Homo sapiens: one gene and its partners. The protein of the gene in region 7 purifies or fractionates together with the protein of the main gene of each other region. This does not show direct contact. Each region holds a gene or a part of one and is shown on either strand. Other genes may lie near its edges.

The links.
Region 1: the proteins of TIPRL (region 7) and CAPZA1 fractionate together in Homo sapiens (co-fractionation; one large-scale study listed by BioGRID). This does not show direct contact.
Region 2: the proteins of TIPRL (region 7) and PSMB7 fractionate together in Homo sapiens (co-fractionation; one large-scale study listed by BioGRID). This does not show direct contact.
Region 3: the proteins of TIPRL (region 7) and GTF2I fractionate together in Homo sapiens (co-fractionation; one large-scale study listed by BioGRID). This does not show direct contact.
Region 4: the proteins of TIPRL (region 7) and DYNLT2B purify together in Homo sapiens (affinity purification with mass spectrometry; one large-scale study listed by BioGRID and IntAct). This does not show direct contact.
Region 5: the proteins of TIPRL (region 7) and MCMBP fractionate together in Homo sapiens (co-fractionation; one large-scale study listed by BioGRID). This does not show direct contact.
Region 6: the proteins of TIPRL (region 7) and RPS6KB1 fractionate together in Homo sapiens (co-fractionation; one large-scale study listed by BioGRID). This does not show direct contact.

Annotation. Positions count from the first base shown.
Region 1 is NC_000001.11:112,657,832-112,661,331, forward strand, and holds part of CAPZA1 (F-actin-capping protein subunit alpha-1), read left to right. Parts: intron 1-1,190; coding exon 1,191-1,270; intron 1,271-1,869; coding exon 1,870-1,948; intron 1,949-3,374; coding exon of another isoform or gene 3,375-3,404; exon of another isoform or gene 3,405-3,421; intron 3,422-3,500. UniProt on the Homo sapiens protein: F-actin-capping proteins bind in a Ca(2+)-independent manner to the fast growing ends of actin filaments (barbed end) thereby blocking the exchange of subunits at these ends.
Region 2 is NC_000009.12:124,356,443-124,359,942, reverse strand, and holds part of PSMB7 (proteasome subunit beta type-7 precursor), read left to right. Parts: intron 1-756; exon of another isoform or gene 757-3,027; coding exon 3,028-3,179; exon of another isoform or gene 3,180-3,500. UniProt on the Homo sapiens protein: Component of the 20S core proteasome complex involved in the proteolytic degradation of most intracellular proteins. This complex plays numerous essential roles within the cell by associating with different regulatory particles.
Region 3 is NC_000007.14:74,748,218-74,751,717, forward strand, and holds part of GTF2I (general transcription factor II-I), read left to right. Parts: intron 1-807; coding exon 808-873; intron 874-1,050; coding exon 1,051-1,234; intron 1,235-3,143; coding exon 3,144-3,199; intron 3,200-3,500. UniProt on the Homo sapiens protein: Interacts with the basal transcription machinery by coordinating the formation of a multiprotein complex at the C-FOS promoter, and linking specific signal responsive activator complexes.
Region 4 is NC_000003.12:196,304,741-196,308,240, reverse strand, and holds part of DYNLT2B (dynein light chain Tctex-type protein 2B), read left to right. Parts: intron 1-1,228; coding exon 1,229-1,298; intron 1,299-3,500. UniProt on the Homo sapiens protein: Acts as one of several non-catalytic accessory components of the cytoplasmic dynein 2 complex (dynein-2 complex), a motor protein complex that drives the movement of cargos along microtubules within cilia and flagella in concert with the intraflagellar transport (IFT) system.
Region 5 is NC_000010.11:119,834,844-119,838,343, forward strand, and holds part of MCMBP (mini-chromosome maintenance complex-binding protein), read right to left. Parts: intron 2,187-3,500; coding exon 2,053-2,186; intron 862-2,052; coding exon 697-861; intron 1-696. UniProt on the Homo sapiens protein: Associated component of the MCM complex that acts as a regulator of DNA replication.
Region 6 is NC_000017.11:59,931,121-59,934,620, forward strand, and holds part of RPS6KB1 (ribosomal protein S6 kinase beta-1), read left to right. Parts: intron 1-501; coding exon 502-602; intron 603-3,049; coding exon 3,050-3,140; intron 3,141-3,313; coding exon 3,314-3,404; exon of another isoform or gene 3,405-3,408; intron 3,409-3,500. UniProt on the Homo sapiens protein: Serine/threonine-protein kinase that acts downstream of mTOR signaling in response to growth factors and nutrients to promote cell proliferation, cell growth and cell cycle progression.
Region 7 is NC_000001.11:168,181,962-168,185,461, forward strand, and holds part of TIPRL (TIP41-like protein), read left to right. Parts: intron 1-1,940; coding exon 1,941-2,120; intron 2,121-2,817; coding exon 2,818-2,917; intron 2,918-3,500. UniProt on the Homo sapiens protein: May be a allosteric regulator of serine/threonine-protein phosphatase 2A (PP2A). Isoform 1 inhibits catalytic activity of the PP2A(D) core complex in vitro. The PP2A(C):TIPRL complex does not show phosphatase activity.

The DNA of each region.
Region 1 (3,500 bases), about 56 Mb from region 7:
TCCCCCTGCCACAGCCTCTCAAAGTGCTGGGGTTACAGGCTTGAGCCATTGCACCCAGCCCCCTAATTATTCTTACTCTATACTAAGTTCTTTTTTTCCCCTACCTTTGTAAATGTAGGCATTCCCCCAAAGTTCATAATTCATTTAATGCAGGTAAAGTAACACAGACTTCGGTGTCACAAAAACAGTGGGTTTGGATTCTACCTTTACCACTTCCTGAGTGACCTTAGGCAAGAAGCTTTGTGAACTTCAACTTCTTATCTGTAGATAACACTGTATTTCATCAGATTTATTAGAGGAAAAAGAAAATACATGTAAGAACATATTTTGTGGACTATAAAGCGCTATTTTTTTTTTCTTACTTTCCCTTGGTGATTGCATTTCCATTCACCTCTCCCACACTAAAGAAGAGTTAGTGTTTCTAACTACTAACTAGACATCTCCATCTGTAATTTCCAGTTTGTTAATGACACCACCATCTTTTTAGTCACTCTTGAGTTCCTTCTTTCCTTTGCCCATCATTTGCAATATACTGCTAGACTTTGATTGTACTTCTACATTCTGTGTGCAACTCTTCCTTTCCATTCCCATTAATATAACTCTGACTTGTTGCCTAGATTAATCCTGTGGCCTCCTAACCAAGCTTCAGCTTTTCTTCGTTTTATCTTGAATACCAGTATTGATTATTCTCCCACAATATTAGTTCTAGTCATGTTTTGCTGTCTCTCCATTGCCTATAGAATAAAATCTTAAACTTCTTACTTTACATCTACTATTACATGACCTAAATCTACCATCCTGTTTTGTCTTTCATTAGTCCACTTCACACACACCCTTTAAACCTGACAGTCTTGTTCACTGAACAAGTCCTTAGTTTCCTGTCTTGCCTTTATTTTCAGTCTCTGCTTATCAGAATCTCATCTGTCTTGTATGACCCAGCCTAAATGGCACCCGCCTTGTACCCCAAACCAAGAGCAGTATTTCCCTCTGTTTTCATTGTATCACTGTCTCTGGTAGAACCTAACATGTTCTGCTTTGTTTTCATATCCCATGTGCACTATTGTGTTCTAAGCTCATTTTATGTGATTCTTTGTCTCCCCCAAGGATTTAACACTCTGCTTTTGTACAATGCATGTTGTTTAAATTAAAAGTGTTTGGAGTCTTTAACTATTTTTTTTTCCCAACAATAGGTTTATGCTAAAACTATCGATGGGCAACAGACTATTATTGCATGTATTGAAAGCCACCAGTTTCAGCCTAAAAACTTCTGGTAAGAAGTAGATATTCTCTTCTATTTACATCTGAAAGAAACCAGCAGTTGAGACTTGGTTTTTAATCCAACTAGCTTGGAATAATTATTTAACTTACAGACTTCAGTTTTCCATCTATAAATGAGGGATTTAGATTCCTTACAGTTCTAAGGTTTTATAATTATATTTTCCTTTAAAAGTTACTCTTATTTTGAGTGAGAACAAGTGATTAGTAAAGTGCCCTGTTGAAAATCTGAGTTTTACTTGGCTTAGGGTTACTGCTACTTGAGTTAATTGTGTAACTCAGCAGCCTATTCATCTGATTTTGGAAGAGCCTCCCATGAGCAGAATAGGCATGGTTTTCCATTTCAAGGGAAAAAAGGAAAAATGAAAGACAAAATAACTTAGAAAAGGCTTATGGTCAGGCCACTTAGATCCAGACTTACATTTGAGTAGACAGAGCTTTGGGTTTGCCAAACTGGAAATGACAGTTTCTCTCTCTCTCTTTTTTTTTTTCTTTTTTTGCACCCCTCTTTCCCAACTTCTGTACCTCAGTGGCAAATCACCTCTTTCTTGTGCTTATTGCTAATTCTGCAATGTTGTGTGTGTGTTTTAATAGGAATGGTCGTTGGAGATCAGAGTGGAAGTTCACCATCACACCACCTACAGCCCAGGTGGTTGGCGTGCTTAAGATTCAGGTGAGATTCCAACATGTTTATAGACTTAAAACTTCACATCTTTAAAACATGTGCAGGTTGCTTTGGTATTAAATAAGGACCAAGTATGTGTAGATGCAAAGGGAGACTGATGGCAGTGAATAGAAATAGAAGCCTCCTTCTTGGGGTGGTAAACAGAGAGAGCTATTCTGAGTTGATAAAGGATAGCATGTAGAGTGTATGGCAACATGGTTATTGTTATTTTTCCTTCAATGGTAACATAAGATATAACTAGGAATTATCAAACAGCAGTTTTAGGAAAGATTTAAAATTAATAATAATAATAATTATTATTTTTTGGGACAGAGTTTCACTCCATCACCCAGACTGGAGTGCAGTGACGTGATCTCAGCTAACTGCAACCTCCACCTCCCAGCCCAGGCTGGGTTAATTCCTAAAAATTATAACTAGAGAGAATGGCAGGTGTTTTGGAATATAAATAGCCAAGCAGAAGTAGATTGATTGATTGATTGATTGATTGACTGATTGATTGATTTTTGAGATGGAGTTTTGCTCTTATTGCCCAGGCTGGAGGTGCAATGGCATGATCTCGGCTCTTCGCAATCTCTGGCTCCTGGGTTCAGGTGATTCTCCTGCCTCGGCCTCCCGAGTAGCTGGGATTACAGGCATGCGCCATCACGCCTAGCTAATTTTCTATTTTTAGTACAGGCGGGGTTTCTCCATGTTGGTTAGGCTGGTCTCGATCTCCTGACCTCAGGTGATCCACCCGCCTCGGCCTCCCAAAATGCTGGGATTACAGGCGTGAGCCACTGCACCTGGCCCAGAAGTAGATTTTTAATGCTGATGTCAGGGTAGACAGGCAGCTGAATAAGATAGCTGTTAACTCATTTGATGCCTGTCTGGATTGAAGTTTAATATCCTAGCAGAGGTTTGACTTTCTAAACTCAGGGTGATTTAATATTTAAGCCTCACTAACTGTAAGGTCAGAATAGGTACAGGTAACCGAGAAGATCAGTACCTAATCGTACCTGTATTATATTATGTGAAGCTGTGCTTTAACAACAATTACCAAGAGTTGTCTTTTTTTTTTTTTTTTTTTTTTTTTGAGAAGGAGGAGAAGGAGGAGTCTCGCTCTGTCGCCCAGCCTGGAGTGCAGTGGTGCAATCTTGGCTCACTGCAACCTCTGCCTCCTGAGTTCAAGCAATTCTCTTGCCTCAGCCTCCCAAGTAGCTGGGATTACAGGCACACACCACCACGCCCAGCTAATTTTTGTATTTTTAGTAGAGGTGGGATTTCACTATGTTGGCCAGGCTGGTCTTGAACTCCTGACCTCAGGTGAGCCACTGTGCCCAGCCAAGAGTTGTCTTTTTTAATGCTCTAATTTAATCAAGTGCATAGGTAATAAATTCTGTAAAAGTAAATCTGCTCTTTTTATATATACCTATAGCTTCCTGCAACAAGTAGCTCCTGGCCATAGGAGCATGCCCAACTCAGGTGAGACAGGCTGGTGTTGAGTTCACAGCTCTAGGAGGAGCCCTCAGTGATATGTAAGAGTTGGTAGATAAATATGGCA
Region 2 (3,500 bases), on a different chromosome or scaffold from region 7:
TTATGAGGGTTTGGGGTGTTAAGGGAGGGATATGTTAAATAAGACCTTAGATCTTAATATTGATCTGGTGTTGCATTGTAGAGATGTTGCCCTAACTTGGTTGAGAATGAAGAAGGCCCTTGAAGTGGTAGTCTTGGGTATTTTGGGAAACACTGCCCTCCAACCCCCAATGGGAGTGACCATCAGAGGAGCTGCTGGTTGGCCCAGAGAGAAACCGGCAAACACCATCCTCCTCCTCTTAAATTTACCCAGGTCTTAAGGCTCTTTGGTGGTGGGGCGTGAATGACACAGCCTTGAGTCAGGGACTAGCTGAGGAGCCCCCGGCCCAAGGAAGGTCACTTGCGAGTTGGTGTGGTGCTGCGGCCTTGTGGCTCTGGGGCCTGATGGGCCTGTTTTACTATTTTTTGTTTACCTGCTGTGTGACCTTGTGTAAGTCATTGACCGTCAGCCAGAGTTTCTGACCATACCAACATCAAAAGATGGTTGGGGGCAGGGGTGAACATGATGATCATCAAAGTGCCCAACTCAGGGCTTGGCACGTTAGAGTGCTGGTAGATGTTGATTGATTGATTGTTTTAGTGAGCATATAGGTGCTCCATAAATCTAAGTTTCATTCCATCTCCTAACATCTTCAGCCATGTGTATATGAGACATGGAGTGGGACTGGGGGGAAAAAAGTGAGAAACTTGAGATTTTCTTCCTTAAGGAATGATCTTCCCTAGAATTGGTGGGGAGGAAAGGAATTTAAAAGATGTATTTTCCCAATTTAAAAAAGCCTTTATTCATACTTAAATAACAGCATACATGATAATTTGATGAGTAAATCAAACTATATAATTTTAAAATTTGCATATTTTAAAGTTTTATCAGTTACTTACAGACTGTTTGCAAAATAGAGGGAGGATCACTCATAATCTTACATAGCACTGTCAGCAGTCTGCTGTCCTGTGCCCAGTCGAATGGATTGACACTAGATATGCATGTCTCATGTCATTCGTATATTTCCGTTTCCCCAAGTCTTCACCTGTCCCCATCTACCCAGATCATTTGGGAAATGTAAATGTGCAGTCCTAAGCGCTGCCCGCAGGGTCGCGATGTCTGCCAGGTACTGCTGGCTGGCTCTAGACACCAGCAGCAGTGATAAGAAACAAAGCAGAGGAGACAGTTAAATGGTAGAGAAGAGAAGGGGGAGCAGAGGTGGTAGGCCGGGAACAGGGGAATAAGTATGGTTCTCCCCGCACGTGCCCATGTGCGCACACACCGAAGGCCATTTAAAGGGAAGCGGTTAGGTATGAGGTTGTGTTTGCTGAATTAGTGGTTGGTTTTTGCTGTCTATCTAGATAGCAGCTGCTGCCAGCTCCTCGTCTAAGAGGCTTTCTTTGCTGCCACCTTCACTGGTTTGTGGAAAGCTTCTGGCCCCATAGACTGTTGAGAATTCCAGGAGAAAATTCCTAATTAGCGGATCCCGTTTGAATGCATTCTTACAGGACTGCATATGTACAAAAGAAGAATTGGCTTCATTGGCCCCACATAGATGTCACGTGAGAGTGAAAAAACCTGGGGTATAAATATCAAAGGAACCCCTATCTGCTGGTTTGCTGAGGAGCCCACTTCCAGCAGAACCTTCTCTGTCCTTCTGAGTCTGTAGAGGGCGCTTATGTCACTGGAATCCTAGTCTGGCATGGGGCAGGCAGAGGAGCAGGAGCCCCCAGTGGGTTCAGATCTTCTGAAAACTTGAGGTTAGCGGATCTGCCCTTTGAGGGTCTCAGGCTGGATTTGGGCCTGGAGTCCGTGTTTCTCCAAGGGTGTTGCTTGGGTGAGCGCTGGAGTGCACTTGCATGTGTATGTACTCTCACGCCCTCGTGGACTGGGAAGGCGCCGTAGCACAGGTTAGATTCCCTGCTTTCAGGGAGCCTGGTTCATTTTTGTCCTCGTTGTATATAGAGCTTGAACTTGGTGTTCCCCAGGTCCAGTACCACTGCCGTTGCTGCCTGCCTTCTGTTTCACTGCTGTTTTCTGAGTGCCTCGTGTGCAGCCTGTCCTTCAGCCCTCCCTGAAGCTCTGCTGACCAGCTGTGTTCCCAGCTCCTTTTCACGTGCTCTTTAGCCAGCCTTACCCTGCATTGTACTTACTTGGGTCAGGTGCCCCTGCTAGACTCTTAAGCCCCTAGGGGGCAGGGATCTGGGGGCGTCATCCACCTCTGCAGCCCTAGCTTCTGGTATAGCATGTGATAGGACATAGCATGTGATGGGGCTTCTCGGATAAGAAAGGGATGAGTCCATCTGTTCACCAGTAACTATTAGGGATGGGGATTTGTGTTTAAAGGTGGGGCAAAGGAGAGAGTGATTCAAAGTAATGGATTACTTCAGTGAACCTATAGGTTCCTTAGTAGGAGAGAGAGATTATTCTGGGCAAGAGGTCCCGCCCTTGGTCTGCCAGCATTTCCCCAGAACTACCGGCTTGTGTTTTGGTGTTAGTTTCTTCCTCCTACAGTGCTGACTTTCTCAAGTAACTTTCAGCTATTGTTGGACATTCTTGATCAGGGGATAGTTAGTAAACTGCAGTCAGTGGGCCAGATCTGGCCCACTGCCTGTTGCTAATAGAGTTTTATTGGAACACAGTTATACCCATTTTTTAATGTATTTGTGTGTGGCTGTTTTGTGCTAGCGTGACAGAGTTGAGTAGGTGTGGTAGAGACTTTTGGCCACAAAGCCTAAAATATTTACTACCTGGCCCTTTTAAAGATAAGTTACTAACCCTCTAGTAACTGTCAGCCCATCGTTTTGTGGTGATTGTCTGATGTGGTCAAGAGGCGGTGCATGCATAAAAAGTTTTAAAGGCCTGGGTCGGGAACTTTGGGTAAATAATCAAGGTACTTTGAGATCTTTTCCTCATCTGTGAGATGGGCATTAAAAACAACACCTGTCTCGCGGGAGGTCTTGCGCACTGCTAGTGGACGTACATTGCGGATGTCAGAGCAGGCCCTAGTTTGGCCGGGGACATTATTGCCGCCGTTCTGTTTCTCAGGAGGAGGAAGCCAAGAATCTGGTGAGCGAAGCCATCGCAGCTGGCATCTTCAACGACCTGGGCTCCGGAAGCAACATTGACCTCTGCGTCATCAGCAAGAACAAGCTGGATTTTCTCCGCCCATACACAGTGCCCAACAAGAAGGGGACCAGGTGAGTGAAGGAGACGAAGTTCTTCCTGGGTCCCCTGGCGTCGTGGCCACCCTTGGTATCTCCATGGCATCTGGATGGAGTTTTCCTGGTTCTTTCCACATTAAGTACATCCAGTGTTCCCAAATCAACCTCCCACACAGACCTTCGGCTTGTTACTTGCTTTATGACAGTGGGCTGCTGTCAGGTGTAGGAAAGTGATTTAATTTGATGGGAGAGGTGGAGGGTGGCCCAGGAAAGAGCCCTAGGCTGGGAGGTGGGGCCGGAGAGGTTTGGATCATCTGCTGTCCTTTCTCAAGTGTCTTAAAGAATCCCCTGATTTCT
Region 3 (3,500 bases), on a different chromosome or scaffold from region 7:
TATATCAAAGGTTAAAGGAATAGCCCGTAGAGCCAGGCTGCCTGAGTTCAGATCTGAGTTCAAATCCGATGCCACTTGGGCAGGCGAATACACCCTGCCTCAGTTTCCCTTTGTGCAAAATGGTAATAACATTACTTTCTTTCTCATGAGGTTATGGTGAGGATTATAAATACTGTCATTTAAAGTACTTAGAACCATACCTCGCATGTAGTAGAGACTATAATTTGTGGGGGCATTTTGGGGGTTTTCATTTGTTTTTTCTTTATTTTAGCATTTGTTCACTTATTTGTAGTCAACATAAAAGCAATGTACTAAAACAGTTTGCTTATGTATCAGGATGGGAGTAGTTGTCAAGTCATATCATGGTAAAAGATTATGCATTTTTTATTTCTTCTTAAAGATGCACAAATAAGGCCAGGCGCAGTGGCTCACGCCTGTAATCCCAACACTTTGGGAGGCCGAGGTGGGCGGATCACCTGAGGTTGGGAGTTCGAGACCAGCCTGACCAACATGGAGAAACCCCGTGTCTACCAAAAATACAAAATTAGCCAGGCATGGTGGCGCATGCCTGTAATCCCAGCTACTCAGGAGGCTGAGGCAGGAGAACTGCTTGAACTCAGGAGGTGGAGGTTGCAGTGAGCAGAGATCGCACCATTGCCCTCCAGCCTGGGTAACAAGAGCGAAACTCTGTCTCAACAAAAAAAAAATAAGATGCACAAATAAGATGAAACACTCCTGCCTGTGAATGTGTATTGATAAGTACTGTGATAAGTATTGCAATTTAACTCTCTTATGTTTTATATGCAGAGGCCTGGAATGCCAAAATCACGGACCTAAAACAGAAAGTTGAAAATCTCTTCAATGAGAAATGTGGTAAGTCTATTTTGAAACCTTCTTACTGCCACGCAGGGTGCCTTCATGGGAGTAGGAGGGAGCAGAGTGGGATACTGAGCGTTGGAGTATCCCTGTCATTGGCAACGTGTGGGTTTTTCGGGATTGAATGGCGTCATTTCGCCCATGTTCTGTTTCGTGTACGCGGCTGTTTTGCAGGGGAAGCTCTTGGCCTTAAACAAGCTGTGAAGGTGCCGTTCGCGTTATTTGAGTCTTTCCCGGAAGACTTTTATGTGGAAGGCTTACCTGAGGGTGTGCCATTCCGAAGACCATCGACTTTTGGCATTCCGAGGCTGGAGAAGATACTCAGAAACAAAGCCAAAATTAAGTTCATCATTAAAAAGTAAGGAAACTGGATGAAGTGGGATTAGCATGAGTTGATTGTGTTTGACACTGGGAGATGGGTATGTGGGTTTGTGTTTGTGGCAGGGCTGAATTAGCTCTGGAGTCAGAAAAACTGCTTTTTAAGCTGCACTCTTGTATATGTTTAAAACTTCTGGCCAGGTGCGATGGCTCACACCTGTAATCCCAGCACTTTGGGAGGCCAAAGCAGGTGGATTACCTGAGGTCAGAAGTTCAAGACCAACCTGGCCAACATGATGAAACCCATCTCTACTAAAAGTACAAAAATTAGCTGGGCGTGGTGGCACGTGCCTGTAATCCCAGCTACTTGGGAGACTGAGGCAGGAGAATCACTTGAACCCAGCAGGCAGAGGTTGCAATGAGCCAAGATCGTGCCACTGCACTCCAGCCTGGGCAGCAAGAGCAAAACTCCATCTCAAAAACAAAAAAAAAAAAAAAAAAGAAGAAGAAATTTTCCTTATGCTGCTGGTAGAAGGGAAGGAGGACTCCACCATACTAGAGAGATAACGACTTTTGGTTGCTAAATCTACACAGCTATGTTGTTACTATTTGATGCTGCTGGAATCTGAGCAGCTGTTTAGTTTTTCAAGTCCTTTTATTTCTCCAACTTAATAGAATATTTTCAATTTCTCCTGTTTGCTTGAACATCTGTGGATTAGGCTAACATAATTGAAATAGATAGGAATGGGCCGGGTGCGGCCATAAATCCCAGCACTGTGGGAGGCTAAGGCAGGCAGATCACTTGAGGTCAGGAGTTCGAGACCAGCCTGGCCAACATGGTGAAGCCCCATCTCTACTTAAAATACAAAAAAAAAAAAAAAAAATAGCCAGGGGTGGTAGCTGGCACCTATAATCTCAGCTACTCAGGGAGGCTGAGACAGGAGAATCACTTGAACCCAGGAGGCGGAGGAGATCGTGCCATTGCACTCCAGCCTGGATGACAGAGTAAGACTCTGTCTCAAAAAAAATTAAAAAAAGAAATAAGAATAATTGGAATTTTATAGTACATGCTAATGCACATGAATTATTTGAAATCAATTGAAATGAATTTTAGGTTTCATTTGCTTGGTGTCAGGCTTAATTTTGAGTCACCCAGGGATGCTCTCAAGCAAAGCTGGCCACTTTTTTTTTTTTTTTTTTTTTTTTTTTTGTGAGACAGAATCTCGCTCTGTACCCAAGACTGGAGTGCAGTGGTGTGTGATATCGGCTTACTGCAAATTCCGCCTCCTGGGTTCAAGCGATTCTCCTGCCTCAGCCTCCAAAGTAGCTGGGATTACAGGCATGTGCCACCATGCCCAGCTAATTTTTGTATTTTTAGTAGAGAAGGGGTTTCACCATGTTGGTCAGGCTAGTCTCAAACCCCTGACCTCATGATCCGCCTGCCTCGGCCTCCCAAAGTGCTGGGATTACAGGCGTGAGCCACCGCGCCCGGCCAATGGCCACCTTTTATGCTTTTGGCCAGGTCTGCAGAGGTTTGGCAGCCTCTAAGCCCTCTGCTTCTGCTTCCGGAGTGAGAGCCTCAAGTGCTCCTGTTTTCACAGCCCATCTTGTGTTTCCATGCTGCGTTTGTGGGGCGTTTTCTCTTTGCATCCTCAATTCTGGCGCTGATTCTTTTCAGGATACATTCTAACCTTGGAAAGAAGATGCCAATAAAACCAGTGTAGGGGAAGGGCAGCCAATGAGAGGCAGCAATGGATGTTAAATTTACAATTGTGGTTTGTCTTTTTGGCTGTGGTTCTTTAGATAAGCATGTGATTTCTGTTCTTCATGACTAAGAATTGAATTTAGACTTTACAGAGTTACTGGTTTGTAAATCTTTGAGTTGTTTAAATTTTAATGTTAGAGTTTTACTGTTTGATCAGCACATTTTTTTTCTCTTTTGTCTATAGGCCCGAAATGTTTGAGACGGCGATTAAGGAGAGCACCTCCTCTAAGAGCCCTCCCAGTGAGTGTATTTTCTGTATTTTCATTGCTATAGAACACACGCTCTTAGGCATGCATTGTGCAGCTGTGGTTTACAAACATTGTTTAAAGAATAGCCATTGAGGCCAGGCATGGTGGTTCACGCCTGTAATCCCAGCACTTTGGGAGGCTGAGGTGGGTGGATCACCTGAGGTCAGGAGTTTGAGACCAGCCTGGCCAACACGGCAAAACCCTGTCTCTACTAAAAATATAAAAAATTAGCCAGGCGTGGTGGCAGGCGCCTATAATCCCAGCTACTCAGGAGGCTGAGACAGCAGAATCAC
Region 4 (3,500 bases), on a different chromosome or scaffold from region 7:
AAGTCTTTTCCAGTGATTTCTTGCCACTGCCCAGACAAACAGAGGAACTGCCCCCACTGGCTCTGTGTTCCTGATGTACATCATACATGCCACTCCTTGAATTATAAGCATACTCAATTTATAATTTATTTTTCTATTTTCTTTTTTTTTTTTTTTTTCGAGATGGAGTTTTGCTCTTGTTACCCAGGCTAGTGTGCAATGGTGCGATCTCAGCTCACTGCAACCTCCGCCTCCCAGGTTCAAGCAATTCTCCTGCCTCAGCCTCCCGAGTAGCTGGGGTTACAGGGATCTGCCACCATGCCTGGCTAATTTTTATATTTTTTAGTAGAGACGGGGCTTAACCATGTTGGCCAGGCTTGTCTCAAACTCCTGACCTCAGGTGATCCACTGGCCTCACCTTCTGAGAGTGCTGGGATTACAGGCGTGAGCCACCGTGCCCGGCCTATTTTTCTATTTTCCTTTGAGTTCTTTATTACTGTGAGTTCTTTAAGGCAAGAAAAACGTCTTATTTATTTCTCTATCTTGAAGGTTCAGCTCACTAGCTGACTTATAGTAGGGGAAAAAGGAAGGAAGCTAAGGTTTATTGAAGGACTAGTATTTAACAGCACTGTTTAGATGCTTTAGATATTACTATATCTGACCGGGCGCGGTGGCTCACGCCTGTAATCCCAGCACTTTGGGAGGCCAAGGTGAGTGGATCACCTGAGGTCAGGAGTTCGAGACCAGCCTGGGCAACATGGTGAAACACCTTTTCTACTAAAAATACAAAAATTAGCCAGGTGTGGTGATGCATACCTGTAGTCCCAGCTACTGAGGAGGCTGAGGTAGGAGAATCACTTGAACCCTGGAGGCAGAGGTTGCCGGTGAGCTGAGATCGTGCCACTGTACTCCAGCCTGGGCAACAGAGTGAGAATCCATCTCAAAAACAAAACAAAAAAAAGATACTACTATATCTTACCTAACCTTATAACAATCTTGGGAGGTAGGTACTGATATTCCTGTTTAATAAGGGAGACTTAAACTGAAAAGTTAAATTACTTTCTGAGGTTATACACTTGCTGAGTTATAGTTAGGATCTGCCTTCACGTCCTCCTGACCCCCAAGCTTACCACCATATTCATTAAGTACTTGTGGATTGAATGTTTATGTCCATTTCTGGGCAAATTTGTCTTCAATAAGTAATTTTACTACATATTTGCTTATAAATAACCTTATTTTTTCTTTCTAGAAATGGGATTTGACCGATACAAAATGGTGGTGCAAGTAGTGATTGGAGAACAAAGAGGTGAAGGAGTATTGTGAGTAGCTGGATTTTCCTTCTTGTTTTAGTCATCTATATTTCTTATGAGGTATCTGTCCTTTGGACAATTCAGTAAGAGTGCCTTTACAAGAGTGAGAAGGGCCGGGTGTGATGGGTCACACCTGTAATCTCAGCACTTTGGGAGGCTGAGGCGGGTGGATCACCTGAGGTCAGGAGTTCAAGACCAGCCTGGCCAACATGGCGAAACCCCGTCTCTACTAAAAATTAGCCGGGTGTGATGGCGTGCGCTTGTAGTCCCAGCTACTCAGGAGGCTGAGGCAGGAGAATCACTTCAACGCAGGAGGTGGAGGTTGCAGTGAGCCAAGATCGTGTCATTGCACTCCAGCCTGGGTGACAGAGTAAGACTCTGTCTCAAAAATAAATAAATAAAATATCTTTATTATCTCTAAAATATTGTCAGTCCTTAATATCATAAAATATGCTGTTATTATTCAGATATGCCTCATATATGTATGTATGTGTTTTCTTTCTTTTCTTTTTTTTTTGTTTAAAGAGACAGGGTCTCATTTTGTCACCCAGGTTGGTGTGCAATGGCACTATCACAACTCACTGCAGCCTTGGCCTCCTGGGCTCAAGTGATCCTCCTGCCTCAGCCTCCTGAGTAGCTGGGACTGCAGGTGTGCACCACCACACCTGGCTAATTTTCTTTCTTTCTTTTTTTTTTTTTTTTTTGCAGAGATGGGTCACACTCTGTTGGCCAGTCTGGTCTTAAACTCCTGGGCTCAGGCAATTCACCAGCCTTGGCCTCCTAAAGTGGTGGACTTATAGGCTTGAACCACCATGCCAGACCTATTATTTTCTTTTTACAATTTTTTCAAATTAAGATTCAAACAAGGTCCACACATTGCATTTGGTTAATATGTAAATTAGGATTTTTTTTTAAGACGTAAGATCTTGCTATCTTGCCCAGGCTGGAGTGCAGTGGCTATTCACAGATGTGATCATAACACACTACAGACTAGAACTCCTGGGCTCAAGTGATCCTCCCACCTCAGCCTGCCAGGTAGCTGGGACTATAGGTGCACACCACAGCATCTGGCTTTAAATTTACTTCAATGTGTTGTTTTTGCTGCCTCATTTCTCTCTTTCTTCTTTTAATCCTGCCATTTGATTTTATTTTTATGACAGTCTTGCTTCCTCACCCAGGCTGGAGTGCAGTGGCATGATCTCGGCTCACTGCAACCTCTGCCTGCCGGGTTCAAGTGATTCTCCTGCCTCAGCCTCCTGAGTAGCTGGGATTACAGGCGCTCACCACCACGCCCAGGTAATTTTTGTATTTTTAGTAGAGATGGGGTTTCACCATGTTGGCCAGGTTGGTCTCCAACTCCTGACCTCAGGTGATCCACCCACCTTGGCCTCCCAAAGTGCTGGGATTGCAGGCGTGAGCCACTGTGCCCTGTCAGTTATTTATTTATTTATTTTTTCCTGCCATTTATTTGTTGAAGAAATTGGTTTGTTTGTCCTGTAGAGTTTCCTATATTCTGGCAGTTGCTGATTATATACCTATGGTATTGTTTAATATGTCTTCTATTTCCTGTACTTCTTGAAAATAAGTAGTTAGATCTAGTCTTAATTAGCCATAGGTTTGAGGTTGGGGAAATACTGTTTTCTATACATCCTATTGCATCTTCTCAGAAGGTACAAAATAGCTGGTCATCTCTTTTTGCTTTGTTAAGGTTGATCATGGAGTTCAGATATTGTCAGATGGATCCATCTATTATAAAGTTTCCCATCAGGGCCGGGCGTGGTGGCTCACACCTGTAATCCCAGCACTTTGGGAAGCTGAGGCAGGAGGATCACTTGAGCCCAGGAGTTCCAGACCAGCCTGGGCAACACAGCAAAACTCTGTCTCTACAAAAAAATACAAAAATTAGCCGGGCATGGTGGCACACGCCTGTGGTCCCAGCTACTTGAGAGACTGAGGTGGGAGGACCTCTTGAGCCCAGGAAGGTTGAGACTGCAGTAAGCCGTGATTGTGCCACTGTACTCCAGCCTGGGTGACAGAGTGAGACCCTGCCTCAGATAGGTAGGTAGGTAGGTAGGTAGATAAGTGCTTACCTTGTCTTCTAGTTTCCATTGTTTCTGTTGAGAAGTCAGCTGTAAGTTTTATTATTCAATTTAAGATGGTATGTCCTCTCTAGCCACTATTACTTTCTTTGTATTTATTCTGCTTAGAGCA
Region 5 (3,500 bases), on a different chromosome or scaffold from region 7:
ACAGCGAGACCCTGTCTCAAAAAAAAAAAAAAAAAAAAAAAAGAATTTGCACAAGTAGACCTGCCATGCAAGAAACACTAAAGACAGTTCTTCAGGCTGAAATGAAAAGATACTAGACAGTAACATGAACCCACATGAGGAAATAAAGGGTGCTGGTAAAAGTGATTGCATAGGCAAATAGAAAAAATAGTACAGAAGTCTTTTCCATTTCTAACTTTTTTCTCTAAAAGACAACTGCAAAAGCAGTAATTCTAAATGTGTTGATGGACATACAATGTACTGAGAGGTAATTGTATGACAGGAGCACAAGGGAGAGGAGAAGGAACGGAATTATAAAGGGGCAAAGTCTTTGTATAATATAATTAAAATGGCATTAGCCACACAAATTTTTTTTAAATTAAAAATAACTAAACAAACTGGCATTAATCCCTAATAGATGATTATACTAACATGTTAAGTTTATCCCCCAAAGACAACTACTAAGAAAATAACTTTAAGAAACTTCAAGGGATTAAAATGGGACACTGGAAAATACCTATTTCAAACAAAAAGACAATAATGGAGTAACAGAGGAATAAAAAAAGACATGACAGAAAACAAATAACAAAATTACCTTATCAGTAATTATGGTAAATGTAAATTGGTTGCATACTGCAATTCAACACAGGGAAATCCTTTATTTTAACCTAGACATACCTTGGTTATTTCATCAGATATGCTATATTCCAAGAATCTCAAAAGAGTTAGATAAATGCGGAATTTGTTCAGCACGGAAGGCAGCACCGCTGAGAGAAGGCTGTTCATGTACTCCTCCATGTTTGGTGGAATTAGCTGGGGCTGTAAGTGAATCTGGCAGTCTGCCTGAAAAGAGAAGGAGTACACTGTATTTTCTGAGTTCCTAAATTAATCTACATTTTTAAAGAAAGATGCATCATCTCTGTCAGCCCCTATGGGAATTAGAAAATACCACTTATTATTTAGGGGGAGGGAATAATGTTTTTTTTTCTGTGTGTGAGACAGGGTTTTGTCCTGTCACCCAGGCTGGAGTGCAGTGGTGTGATTGCAGCTCACTGCAACCTGCTTCCCAGGCTCAAGTGATCCTCCCACCTCAGCCTCCTCAGTAGTGGGACCACAGGTGCACGCCACCATGCCTGACTAATTTTGGATTTTTTGTAGAGACAAGTTTCGTCATGTTGTCCAGGCTGGCCTCAAAGTTCTGGGCTCACGCAATCCACCTGCCTTGGCCTCCCAAAGTGCTAGGATTACAGGCGTGAGCCACCGCAGCCAGTGAGCATCTATTTTTAATATTAATTTACATGCTTTATAACTACCTCAGAAATAATTATGAAAGCTTTTTCTTGGTTACTTATGTTTCCTCAATGGTATCAGTAAGCACACAAAAATGTAGCCAACCTCTAAAAAGCAGCTAATTAAAAAGGTCTATCAATACTTGCACACAGAAAACATATCCTTGAGCCATTTCATTCTTAGTCAAAGGCGGTTTCTCATCAATCGCAGGTGAATACTATTATTCAGAGACTACACACCATTTGACAACTGGGAGCATTTCCCATCATCCACAGAATTAAAAGCTCTCTTTACCAGCCACTCTGAAGACATACCAGAGCATTTCACCACAAAGCATGAAAATAACTACCAAGTGACCAAGGACATTTTAAAAGAACTCTGAAATATTTTTCACATAAGATTAGCAGAAAACAATGGGTCAAAGGTAGCAAGAACAGAAGTCTGGATGTTAAAATCAGGCAATCTCGCTATGCTCAGATGTGGGTGTTTCTGCTGCCAACAGCCTTGCTGGTCTCATGACTTGCTGATACCTGAGCTTGGTAGATGTAAGGTTTTCATCCATGGCAGTGCAAAATACTCAATTCCCTTAATGATCAGCAGTCACAGTTTTTTTTTTTTTTTTTTTTTTTTTTTTTTTTTTTTTACAACAAATGTAACTTATTAATAAGCGGTACCAAGAAACAGCAAAAATGTAGGTATTTTTCCAATGTCAACCTCCCTCCATTTAAAAATGACTCATCATACCGGGAGGAGTGACCTCCCCTCCGAAGTAATGAAAACGTTAATATTGCAGGGGAATTCCATCTGATGGTAGCTGAAGTCATAATCCACCTTCTGCCACGTTATGAGGTTGCTCAGGGCTGTCACATTATGAACACCTACAAAGGCAGGAAAACACTTTCAGTCATTTGACTTTAATCATCTAAACACATCAGTTTTGCTGACACCGATGATGAGCCATGAAGTTTCTACCACTTTTAATAAAGGGTATGAGGCGCTGTCCAGTTTACTAAGCTAAACGTCACTAAGTGTGTAGGCTTACAACAGTCTTGGTCAAGGTAGAACTTTCTGGGGGCAGGCGATACCCCCGCAAATCTAATACCTAGCATCTGGTATGCACCTAGACATAAAATAGTTCCCAAGTATGATTATTTCTAAGTGGTGTATTTACAGGGCTAAACCAAGGAAACACTAAAACTACCGTCATACATAGATCAGCCTAGTGAATTTTACAGATTTTATATTCCCCTTTGCCTTAAACATGCCCAGTCTACCTCATTTTTTCTTCTACCTTTACCTCTTGAGCTGATCGCCAGCAGTGTATTCTTAATTGTCTTCATTTGAGCACTGGTAAACAATCTGCTTTCTTGTGATTTTATAATATATTCCGCAACTGAGGTTAGTGCAAACCATTTGATCTATTATTTCTCAGACATTCTCTGAAAACCATTTACAAACTTTACAACGGGAGGTTAAAACATAATTAGCCAGGCGTGATGGCGGGTGCCTGTAGTCCCAGCTACTCGGGAGGCTGAGGCAGGAGAATGGTGTGAACCCGGGAGTTGGAGGTTGCAGTGAGCCAAGATTGGCCACTGCACTCCAGCCTGGGCGACAGAGCAAGACTCCGTCTCAAAACAAAAAAAAAATTATATTAGATCTTTTCTACACTTCCCTTTTGAGGTATTAGATGACTAAAGGCAAAGCTTCCTCCCATTTCAGCTTTTTAAAAAGCTATTTGGGGCAGGTGCAGTGGCTCACACCTGTAATCCCAGCACTGTGGGAGGCCAAGGCAGGAGGATCACTTGAGCCCAGGAATTCAAGATCAGCTGGGCAACATAGCGAGACCCTGTCTCTACCATTCCTTACACTCACTGAAAAAAAAATTTTAGGTTATATACAACTACGCAAAAGAACCCAACACTGTAGGCCCATAAAGACTGCTCCAACCATTCGCTGACACAATAAAACTTTTCACCAAAGAACCCTTACGACCCTCAACATCTAATACTACCCTTTATATTACTGCTCCATTATACTAATACTACCCTTTATATTATTGCTCCATTATATAATATATAAAATATATAATATATGATATATATTAAATGAGACATTATATATTATATATGATATATATTATATAAGATATATTATATAAGATATATATCTGTTCCATTGTACTACTTTCAGAA
Region 6 (3,500 bases), on a different chromosome or scaffold from region 7:
TGGGCCTCAGCTGTCTATAAATATGTAGCTGTATTAAGTAAGGGATGAGTGGGCTTCTAAGGGTCAGGTTATAAGATACCTTTTGAAATCAAGATGTGATCTCTGAGAATAACAAAGTTCCTATTTCCTATGGGATTTTAAAGTTGGGTGTGGATGGGAGAAATTTGCTTGAAATGAATGGCTATTAGCTTAATTCCTACACAGACAGAACAAAACATGACCAATGGCAGTTTAGCATATTCTGGACATCTTTGCAATTTTAGCAATATATTCTAATGGCAAAATAAAGCACTTTATAGTTTCACTAAAATGAGTGAAACATAAATGTCCCCATGCCTTTTGGCAGCATCCTATGCCATCTCTTTTTCCAATACATCCCCCTACCCCACTAATTTGGTCTTTGGTGCATGTCTGTTTCTTTCAAGGAATTTTGCTCCATACGTAAACTGCTTTGGATAGATTACACTCTTTTTAATTTTATTAAATCACTTTTGTTTCCAGCTTTTACTTGGCAGAAATCTCCATGGCTTTGGGGCATTTACATCAAAAGGGGATCATCTACAGAGACCTGAAGCCGGAGAATATCATGCTTAATCACCAAGGTGGAGACATACCGTAAACAATTCTATAGTAAATAATCATCTTAAAATCCTCCCACATAGGTCGTGGCCATTTTCAAAGCCCCAAATTCATCTCTCTATTTTGTATATTTCCTCCCTCAGAATTCATGGCATCATAGTACTTGCTGATATTTTAAGTCTTTAGGTAATTACGCTTGGTGAGAGTAAAAGAAGTTGAGGATAATAGTCGCTCAACTGCCTTTTTTAGTTTAATCCTTACTCTTTATAGTTTTTCATGTTTTTGGAATCTTTACATCAAATGTTGTATAATGTTTTAGACTGTAAAAGCCAGTCTAAACATTAATTTTGGCTTGTTACTTAAATTGAAAAGTGAATCTCAATTATATAAGTTGAGTTTTAATAATGAAAATATGTAAATATTGGCTGGGCACAGTGGCTGACACCTGTAATCCCAGCACTTTGGGAGGCTAAGGTGGGTGGATCACCTGAGGTCAGGAGTTCAAGACGCCTGGCCAACATGGTGAAACCCCATCTCTACAAAAATACAAAAAAAAAAAAAAATTAGCTGGGCATGATGGTGGGTGCCTGTAATCCCAGCTACTCAGGAGGCTGAGGTGGGAGAATCGCCTGAACCCAGGAGGCGAAAGTTGCAGTGAGCCAAGATCGCGACATTATACTCCAGCCTGAGTGAAAAGAGCGAGACTCCGTCTCAAAAAAAAAGAAAATATGTGAATATTAGAAGCTATGCTTCTTACAGTAGGTTTTATTAATGCTGGGAAAAGGATTGAAATTGAACCAAAGTATTTGATAAAACTTTGGAAATATGATGTTTAGTAGGCATCAGGTTACTTTTTTTTTTTTTTTTTTGAGATGGGGGTCTCACTCTGTCATCCAGGCTAGAGTATGGTGGCATGATTACAGCTCACTGCAACCTCCGCCTCCCAGGCTCAAGTGATCCTTCCACCCCGGCCCCTCAAGTAGCTGGGGCCACTGTGGCACACCACCACGCCTGACTAATTTTTGGTATTTTTTGTAGAAATGGGGTTTCATCATGTTGCCCAGGGTGGTCTCAAACTCCTGAGCTCAATTGATCTGCCTGCCTTGGCCTCCCAAATTGCTGGGATTACAGGCATAACCCACCTTCCCCCCAGCCAGAATCAGTTTATTCTTGCTGTTTGTTTGTAACAACAAACATAAACATCAGAGAGACTGATAATCTATACAACTATAGATATAGCACAGTGAGCCTTGACTACAACTGCATGCTGCTAAAGACAGCTCAATTTATGCTAATCTGGGCTGTAGGTAGACTTGGCAATTCACTCGTACCCCAAAGGAGCAACCAGCTGACCCAGGGTATCTAGAAGGTGGTAGCAGCTGCTAATCCTTAGATGTCTACAGAATAATCCATGAGGTAGTTAATTGTTTCAAACTCTTAGAAAATGATGTATGAACAACTGAGGCTCATATAAACATTCCAGATTATACTCCTCCACCCACCTTTTTTTTTTTTTTAAGGAGAAATGATATACTTAACTGAATATATCATGGGAATCAGTGTCTCTTCCTTCCTCTCATCAACACCTCCTCACTCCCCAAAACGTGGATTCTGATCTGAATTATAAGTCACAGGATAGAATAGGGGAGCGATAGAATAGTTAACTTCTTTGATTTATAAGGTTGAGTGTATCAGATGGTTCTGTGAAAATAAAGGCCATACTTCTTCTGTATCAGAGTGTAGTATATATTTACATTTGAATCAATAGGTCATTGTGCCTTTTCTGTGAAATGAACCTCAAATACTAGAGTCCCTGAGATTGTTGAACCACTTGTTATGACAGTCCAGTAAAGAAAGCTAAACTTGAACTGAAATGATCTTTGTGTAAGGTGGTAAGTTTTTTACTTTCTGGATCAGTGATGATTGATTCATACTATCTAGCAATTTTCTTTCTTTCCCCTAATTGGTAGCATTGGGCAGAATGAGCTACCTTGTTATAATGAGTTTCTGAGACCATTTTAAGGACTCTTCACAGTTCACTGTGATAAAAGCTATATATTTGAAGTACTGTCTCACACCTTTGTTCAAAAGGTACAGAGTATGTTTATTGGGGTCTGTGTACGTAAACTAGACTTCATAAAACAGTTTTCCCAGGATTTTTCTTTTTCAGGATGGTAGAGAATTTTGTATATACTTAAAGCTAGAGCCTTAAACAGGTTATTTCACTTTTTTCTCTATCTTTATTTTCTCTTTACTAGATAGATTGTATCATTGGCAAAAGGTGACTTTGCCCTAGCCTTAAACAGTTAGCATCCCATTTTATGGATGGTACCTTGTTCTTGACATCTGCAAGAAAATTTGAGGCAAGAAAAGTTAAATGGAAGGATAGATTAAAGTATTATGTGACATGTTCAAACACTGCACATACTTATAATTCGGAGAATAATCATGCTGTAATCTTTCATTGTAGGTCATGTGAAACTAACAGACTTTGGACTATGCAAAGAATCTATTCATGATGGAACAGTCACACACACATTTTGTGGAACAATAGAATACATGTGAGCTACATGTTAAACATAATTGGTTTGGGGGTAATAGCTAATTTTACCTGTTTTAAGGAATAGTATCTGTTTTCTGTACCCTCATTGACTCTGTATATTGTTTTTAAAATTCTAATTCAGATGATATGCAAATGGGTGAATTTTTAAGCATATTATTTTCCTCATTGTAGGGCCCCTGAAATCTTGATGAGAAGTGGCCACAATCGTGCTGTGGATTGGTGGAGTTTGGGAGCATTAATGTATGACATGCTGACTGGAGCAGTAGGTGCACAGTTAAAAGCTGCATGTATTATTGGTCTGTGCTGAGTCACTATAGCAAGAGACCTGTCCTGTGCTTTCTGAACATGTTACCAGTGG
Region 7 (3,500 bases):
GCTGAGGCACGAGAATCACTTGAACTTGGGAGGTAGAGGTTGCAGTACGCTGAGATCGTGCCACTGTGCTCCAGCCTGGATGACAGAGTAAGACTCCGTCCCCCACCCTCCGCCAAAAAAAAAAAAATGCCTTTTTTTATATGACAAAAGGAAGACTTACCCTCACCAATCCCAAATTTTTCTGTGATGCATTATCATAGATTGTAAAAACCACTAAGGTGCTAAATAAATTGGTTGGGTAAAATATTGGATTAAAGAAGCTCTTCTAATGAATATTTAAGGCACCTTAAAACCACAGGAGCTTCCTGTCTTCTCTCCTTGTAACTAGTTATACCTGTTTTTAAGTGGGAAGCTTGATGATGTTAGAAATAGGGCATTTTCAGGCCGGGCGCGGTGACTCACGCCTGTAATCCCAGCATTTTGGGAGACCGAGGCAGGTGGATCACCTGAGGTCAGGAGTTCGAGACCAGCCTGGCCAACATGGTGAAACCCTGTTTCTACTAAAAATACAAAAATTAGCCGGGCATGGTGGCACGTGCCTGTAATCCCAGCTCCTAGGAAGGCTGAAACAGGAGGATTGCTTGAATCTGGGAGGCGGAAGTTGCAGTGAGCCAAGATCGTGCCATTGCACTCCAACCTGGGCAACAGAGCGAGACTCCGTCTCAAAAAAAAAAGAGGGCATTTTGGCCTATGTTTAAGAAACTCTATATTTAGAACACTGAAGGACTGTAAATTAGTAACAGTGATTCTTTTACATATATGAGTGGAATATTTTATAGGACTGCCACATTTTTCCAGATATATTGGTTAGAATCCACAGACTCACATATTATTTCACATTTGGTATGCATTATTCAAGTTAAAACTTATTTTATGGAATCTTATGGAATATATATTCCAATTACAGTTTATTGTATCTAATCTTTTAAGTATTTAATATTTTCTATCTCCTAATAACAAAGAATAAATTTTACTTAAAATTATGATGAAAGTTAACATTGTTAGTCCTGAAGACCATTGTTAACATTGTGCAGTCCTGAAGACCTGCACCTCAAAGTTAGATCACTGATATGTGCACACAGAAATACACGTTTAGATGTAATAAATATACAATGTGTGTCCAGTTTTTTTCTTACTATTTTATCATAAGCATTTTTTCATATTATTATAGTCTCTCTTTAAACATTTGTAATGGTTCCATAATATTTCATCATATGGATATACTTTGGTTTGCATAATCATTTGTTGCTTTATAATGAAACATTCAGAGTATTTCTTTTTCATGATTATAAGTAAAGCCATTATAAGTATTAATGTGTATAATATTTTTCTGTACTTGGAATTATTCTTTAGTACAGGTATTCTAAAACTGATACTTTGGGTCATAAGTGTGTAAATTATGTTAAATTCCTGTGATTTTTTTTTTTTTTTGCTTGATTGTTGCCCCAGGGTGAAATGTAAATTGACACAATCCTTCTGAAAGTCTGTGTAGGCAAGTGCTGAGTTCCCTCATCAGTGTCAGGTGCTTTTGCTTTTTTCATCACCACGTTTTGAAACTTTTAACAATTGAGAATTTTAATGGAAAAATTATTTTCCTACAAGAGACAGTATCTTTAATTGCTTTGCTATCTTTTCTTCATACCCTCATGATATATATTATAGTAATATCTGTGTGCTATATATTATAGTAGTATAATAAGCTATTATATTACGTATTTGTATATTTATCTTATTTAGCCCACTACTTAGTACAGTGCCATATGATGATGAAAGAATGGATGATGAAAGCATTTTATAGACCTTGCAAATATATCATATTGATTAAATCATGTGCTGTGTAACTCATTCAGCAAGTAGGAAGAATTCTGTTGGGATGGAAAAGAAACAAAAATGCCAACAGCGATATAAAATTATCTCACCCGACTTTTGGTTACGTATAGATTAGCCGATGAATTACATATGCCATCTCTCCCTGAAATGATGTTTGGAGACAACGTTTTAAGAATCCAGCATGGGTCTGGCTTTGGAATTGAGTTCAATGCTACAGATGCGTTAAGATGTGTAAACAACTACCAAGGAATGCTTAAAGTGGCCTGTGCTGAAGAGTGGCAAGAAAGCAGGTGAGAATCCGGTCAATTAGGTTAAACAAAAAAGGTAATTAGGTTAAACAAAAGAGAAAAGACTTGAAAAAATATTCAGTAATGATACGTGTGTGTTGTTAGAATGAAGGGCTGGTATTATTAAACTTGAGAGTTGTATCATTCTAGAATTCGTTTTTCTCAGACATAAAAATGGAAGTTAATTACCCCACTGCTTGAATACTTGTTAAAGTGAATTACAACTGAGCTGAGCTATGTACGTTTTCGATTTTTCAGTGTTCCTTACTGAAGAGGCAGTAGGCTATACTTAATGTTCCTGTTTTTAAGAAAAAATGTTTACTTATGATATGCTTAATAAATACCCTATTTGAGAAGCATTGAAATTAAGACAACATGTTTTTCTTTGATAGTCAAATCAGCAATTATTTACTTTGTGCCTAATATGTACTAAGTACCTTAGATGATACAAATAAGTATAAACCTTTAAACCATGTCCTCAGGCTGTATACAGACTAATTGAAAAGACTACATCAGTACATGACAAGTTAAATAATAAATGCAGAAAAACTGTAAGAAAAACCTTGTACTGGTGAATTATAACAAGTGTATATATTTAATAGGATATGTTATTATAGAATATAATTTGATGTGATATATAAATACAGATAATCTCTATTCTGCATCACTGAATCTGATCCTTCTCATTTTGGTATTTGAGGACGGAGGGTGAACACTCCAAAGAGGTTATTAAACCATATGATTGGACCTATACAACAGATTATAAGGGAACCTTACTTGGAGAATCTCTTAAGTTAAAGGTAAATCTTACTTTTTTCTTTCATGAGTCATTGATTGTCTTGGACAGTCTGAGCATTAGAACTTTCTAGTAACGGGTTATTTTTTGCAACTATTTTTATCGTCCTTGTTTTCTGTTGTGGCATTCCTCAGAACCTAATGTGAGGGGGTTTTGCTTGTTGACTTATCAGTAGAAAATAAAAGACGGCATTAGTGGAAAAATTTATTTTTAAAAGTGTAGTTGGTGGCAACGGCAGACGGCCTTGTTGTTATCATTATCACTATCAAGAAACATTAAAATGTGTTTCGGGCCTTGGTAATGTATTACATGATTTAGACAGAACCTGCTAGCTTGTAGCTCACAAGTTTATAGATGAACAAATATATGAGCAAAAAGAACTTCTGGTTAGACAAAGTAGGTTTATGCCCTGTCTGCCCTGAGTATGAACCTGAAATGACTTTAGGAAGTTACTTAATTTGAGTCTCAGTTTTATCAATAAATTGGGTAAACAGAAATATCTACCTCAAAGCAGAGTTTTGATGTGAAATAATTTATGGGAAGCTCTCAATAAATTCTAAAGCTCTATATTAGTATTAAGTCCTGTG